Regions from separate parts of the Homo sapiens genome. Here region 1 is linked to region 2. The links come from fine-mapping of genetic effects on gene expression. Tissue or cell type: whole blood. Region 2 holds a variant in brackets; the other region holds the start of a gene. All regions are shown on one strand. Distances are between the middles of the regions.

Evidence for each region. PIP is the estimated chance that this variant, and not a neighbour inherited with it, causes the effect.
Region 1: ALOX15B starts here. The variant in region 2 is fine-mapped to the expression of ALOX15B in whole blood (INTERVAL, PIP above 0.99). The same link has a PIP of 0.9 or more in blood mononuclear cells and monocytes.

What each region holds. Positions count from the first base shown.
Region 1 is chr17:8,037,658-8,040,157 of GRCh38, reverse strand. It overlaps ALOX15B (arachidonate 15-lipoxygenase type B), which reads right to left and starts at 1,099. Exons shown (of 14, transcript NM_001141.3): 1 at 856-1,099; 2 at 553-772; 3 at 175-256. The coding sequence starts at 1,002.
Region 2 is chr17:8,015,364-8,018,188 of GRCh38, reverse strand. It overlaps GUCY2D (guanylate cyclase 2D, retinal), which reads right to left. Exons shown (of 20, transcript NM_000180.4): 15 at 2,687-2,825; 16 at 2,348-2,446; 17 at 2,168-2,262; 18 at 1,899-1,984; 19 at 1,635-1,746. The coding sequence ends at 1,659. Among named protein-coding and RNA genes, the nearest start is that of GUCY2D, 14 kb to the right of the region's middle. RefSeq lists a silencer at 1,274-1,454. The variant T/C (reference allele first, on the strand shown) is at 1,291.

The DNA.
Region 1 (2,500 bases), 22 kb before region 2:
AGGTGGCCTGAGAATTTGCATTTCTAATACGTTCCTGTAGACGCTGCTGATCCCAGGAGCAGCTTTGATAGGAGAGGTGGAGGCAGGGGCTTTTAATCTCTGTCATGACCAGGACACTCAAGCTGCCCCTCATCGTTTGGGCACACCCTCCCCCATCAGTAACCCCCTCCTCACTGGTACATCTCCTGCCGGGCCTGAAGCTCCTCCTGGCGCTGTTGCTGGAGCACAGGGTGGTGGTCTGCCCAGGACACCTTGGCTGTGGGAGAAGGGGAGTAGGTTGGGGTGGGGAGAGAAACTCACCATCACTACCACCAGCCACACAGTCTCCACGATTGCCACCCTCTACCAGGTCCCCTCCTCCCATAAGTACAGTTTCTCCTACACCAGGCTGCTACCTCCCGCTCCCCAAGGCTCCGCCATTCCCTCTCCTCTGCCCGCTACTCTGTGGCCACACCAGCTCACCTCTCCATTTCACCTGCCCTTCTCCCCAACCCCCAGTCCCCTACCCCTTCCTGTGCTCCCCCTGCAGCCCCAGCCCGGCCCGCCCCTCACCTGTACCCTCCTGCAGCACCAGGGTCCCCGCCCCCTCCAGCCACTGGTAGCAGGGGAAGAGGAGGTGGCCGCCCCGCGGCGGTGTCAGCTGGAACCAGCGGCAGAACCAGGCATCCGGGGCCAGGGGCCCCAGCAGGGGCAGCACTGGGGGCGCCTTGTGCACGCGCAGCAGCAGCACTCGGCCTACGTCCTCCGGGAGCGTCACCTGGAAGTCCTCCTCCTGAGGGGAGGTTAAGTATGCGTCAGGCCGGACCCTCCTGCTCGCCCCCTTCACCTCCACCCCATCCACTCCCACGCACTCACAGCGCCCGCAGTGAACTCCTTGCCGAGATTGTCCAGGGGCAGTGGGGGGCTCTCTCCCCGGGTCCCCACGATGCTGACAGACACTTTGTCCCATGTGCCAGCCCCGAAGGCTTCTCCGGTGGACACCCTGACCCTGAACTCGGCCATGCTGCCAGCCTAAGTCCAGCTCTCTACGGCGCACAGGGCTGCAGAGCGGGGCTCCCCCCTGGGACACGCCTGGTTATTGCCCCTGGTTATTGCCACTGACTCCAAGCCCAGTGGACTCCTCTAAAAAGCACGTCCGTTTCAGGGCGGGGAGGGGCGGGGCGGAGAGGCTGGAACACGCAACTAAAGTGGGGGTGGGCGGGGGATTGGCAGCGCTGGGAACAGGAGGGACTAAGAATACCCTGAGGTTTGGGGAACGGGGCCTTTCAGTGGTGGTGCCAGGCCAGAGAGCCTAGAGTTGGGACCCAGTTGGGGTGGGGGTAGATTTGTGCCCACCACGTCTGTTTGTTTTCCTTCTTAGCCTTAGAAGTCTATGCAAAAATATCACCCCATTTCCCACAACTCTTCTTGGGCCTGCGTTCATTATTTTTAAAATTTATTTATTTATTTATTTTTGAGACAGAGGCTTGCTCTGTCGCCAGGCTGGAGTGCAGCAGCATGATCTCGGCTCACTGGAACCTCCTCCTCCTGGGTTCAAGTGATTCTCCTACCTCAGCCTCCCCAGTAGCTGAGACAACAGGCGAGTGCCACCATGCCCAGCTAATTTTTGTATTTTAGTAGAGACGGGGTTCCACCATGTAGGCCAGGATGATCTTGATCTCTTGACCTCATGATCCGCCTGCCTCGGCCTCCCAAAGTGCTGGGATTACAGGCGTGAGCCACCGCGCCCAGCCTACATTCATTATTTTATTTCATTCAATAATTAATGTTCAGAACTACCTCTGTGCCAGGTGCTATGCTCACTGCTATTGATAAAGGCCCAGGCAAGACCTAGTGCTTGCTCTCATGGAGATTAAAAATCAAGTGTGAGGCCAGGCACAGTTGCTGGCCAACATGGTGAAACCCCATCTCTACTAAAAATACAAAAAAATTAGCCAAGCGTGGTGGCGGGCGCCTGTAGTCCCAGCTACTCAGGAGGCTGAGGCAGGAGAATAGCTTGAACCCGGAAGGCGGAGGTTTCAGTGAGGTGAAGTTGTGCCATTGCACTCCAGCATGGGCGACAGAGCAAATCTCGGTCTAAAAAAAAAAAATCAAGTGTGAGAGAAAATAAGTAAACCAACACATAATTTCAGATGATAATAAGTGCAATGAAGGAAATGAAACAGACTAATGTGAAGGAGTGAGAAGCAGAGGTGGGAAGGGAGGCGTTCAGAGCCTCAGAGGAGGTGAAAGGATCTGTCTGGGGAACAGAGTTTTGTGCAGAGGAAACTGTTCCTGAAGAGGCCCTGTGGTTAGGAAAAGCTTGGCTTGTTGGAGGAGGGAAAGGCAAGAGTGCAGTGAGGGAGGGATTTGGGGGAGAGATGCCAAGGGGAAGTTATGGATTTGGGCTTTGGGGGAATAACATAACAGATTTGGGGTTTTCGGTCTGGAGATGCTAAGTTTGAGATGGCCATTAGACATCCAAGTGGAGAACCCACGTCTGGGCATAGAGCTCAGGACT
Region 2 (2,825 bases):
ACTGGACACTCACTACCTCTGGTGGCAGCCTAGGTGGTTTCCTAGCCTGCTGCAAACTTCTTCCAGGGTCTGTAGCAATGGTGACAGACACCAAGAGTCAAATGTGCCAAGGCCCAGGCTCTGGAAGGTCAGAGTTTCACAAAGGCAACTTCAACTGGGGACTTGCCAGGACAGGGCATTGATAATTGCTGCAAAGGTCAGGCGCGGTGTCTCACACCTGTAATCCCAGCACTTTGGGAGGCCAAGGTGGGCAGATCACTTGATGTCAGTTCAAGACCACCCTGGGCAACATGCTGAAACCCCATCTCTACTAAAATCACACAAAAAAATTACCCGGGCGTGGTGGCGGGTGCCTGTAATCCCAGCTACTCGGCAGGCTGAGGTAGGAGAATCACTTGAACCTGAGAGGAGGAGGTTGCAATGAGTCGAGATTGTGTCACTGCACTGCACTCCAGCCTGGGTGACAAAGTGAGACTCAAAAAAAAAGAAAAAATTCTAAGCAGAGAGGATTTTCTGTCCAACTGCTTGCTCAGCAGCTCCTAGTTAAACAGAGAATGCCGCTCTTTGGATGTTCTGGTCAGTCAAGGTGTGGCACAATTTCCTTTCCTCAAAGCATTGAAGCAAGCTTTTCTCTGCACTTGGGCAAGTTCCCTGATTATACCCACAGGAGAAGCAGCCAGTTTCTGACTGGTGGGAGATGGAGATAGGAATGAAGCTTGAGGCTAAACAGGAGCCCTTGCCCCCTCAGGCCATGTGACAAACCCTGCTCTGGTGGAACAGAACTCCACTTCCTCTGGGGTCGGGCATCAATCCCAGATCCTCCTTCCTGGGTCCCTGAGAGACACTGGGAAGCGGAGAATCCCTGACCCTCACATCCCCTGCTGGACTCAGGGCTCCTGGGGGTGAGGGCCACAAGCCACCCAGCTGTCAGGTGCACAGGGGCCTTGGGAACCACTTAGGCCACCCCCCATTTTGCCACTGAAGGGATCACAGCAGAGCATGCGTGACACTTTCCCAAGGTCACATGGCTGGTTTTGCAACCAGCTCTTGTAAAAGGCCCAAAATCCTTTGAGGCAGAGCTGGGCAGAGTCCACCAGCATTAGACAGACTTCCAGTCACCTATAGCAGCAACTTTCAGGAAAAGGACCTTCCAGAACAATCCTGAAGAAAAGAGGGGTATCTCAGAGGGGAGTCGAGGAAAGGGGTCATGGGGGTTCACCTAGGAAGGAGCGGGTCACGGGTCAGTTTCTTGCAGGAGGGGAGTGGGCACGGCTTCTGCTTTCACATTGT[T/C]CTCTGGTGACTGCTGCCCCCTAGAGTTGTCTCTTGTGCAGTGCACAGCCTGTGAGGCTTCTGCGGAAGCCAGGTTTATGCACTGGGGATGAGATAGGGCCAGGGGAGGGGCCACAGAAGGCCCCGATTACGGAGTTTCCTAAGCCTGGATTTCCAAACCACTCCAGATCTACTGAACCAAAATTCCTGCAATGGCTGCTTCCCTCCCAGGGGAAGCCCCGGGGTTTAGGAACCAGCCTGGGCTCTCTAAGTCAGAAAGGGATCGGGACACCTGGCTTGGGTGGGACGTTCTGCAGGCAGCAGAGGGGACGCGGCAGCTGGGGTTGGGGCTGAGGGGGCAGTACCTGTCCGGGGCCGGGCCTCACTTCTCAAGAGAACTGGCCCGGCCGCGCCTTCTCCAGCTTCCGTCGCCGCTCGGGTGGGATCTCCTGCAGGCTGATGCCGTGGTTGCTGGACCTGCAAGGAGGGGGCGGTGGCCTCAGGGAAGGGGAATGGGGCGTGGGAGGGCAGGGCCCACGTCATCGCTGCCTCGCGCGCGGGGGGTCAGACACAGAGCAGGAGGCAGGGGTCCCTCGTCCCTCGCCCTGCCGCGGAGGCCGGCCCCTCACCCCGGTTGCAGGTCAGGCGGTTTGGGGATGGGCTTGTTGAAGCCGCGTCTGCCCACTAGCCAGAAAGTGTCCTCGGCGCCCTTGCCCTGGGGAGACATGGGAGAGGGAAGGACTTAGGCGGACTGGGGTGAGGGGTGGGGGATCTCGAGTCTGCGTGGAACTGGGAGACCAGGTCAGAAGGGTGAGCTGAGGTTTGCAGCCGCGGCCCGGGATGGGCGGTGCCTCAGGACAGGGCGGGGCCTCCGGGAGGGGTTGGGGCCCTGCCTCACCTTCAGCTCCGTGCGGCCTCGCAGCTCCACCTGGTAGCCCGAGTCCAGAGCACGGAGAATCCCCACAGTGCTCAAGTTCACGTGGATGCGGTAAGCTGTGGCGGTGGGGGACGCCGTGAGCTCGGGACTCACCTCCCGTGTCCCCCTCCCACCTCCCCGTCTTGTCCCCGTCACACTCACGCAGCCCGGTGGACTCCATGCGCGAGGCGGTGTTGACCGTGTCCCCAAACAGGCAGTACCGCGGCATGGTGAGGCCCACCACGCCTGCCACGCATGGACCTGTGGAGATGCTGGGGGTCGGCGGGGCTAGCAGGGCCGGCCCTGGGCTGCACCTAGGTAGGGCCTCGGGGGATCTTCGCACCCATTATCTCCACCAGCCCCCCAAATAAGCCTTGTTAAGTGCATCCTCTTCAAGGTAAGCCCCACTCCCCGCTCCATGAGTTGCCTCCTCTACAGGAAATCTGGGGCCAGGCCCTAAAGAGGGAGATGGGCTGGAGCCTGGGAAGACCCGGGAGTTACCCGAGTGCAGGCCTATGCGGATGCGCACGGGAACCTCAGGCATATGGCGCATGCGGAAAGTGCCCACGGCACTGAGGATGTCCAGTGACATGTTGGCGATCTCTGCCGCGTGTCGCTGCCCATTCCGCTGGGGCAGCCC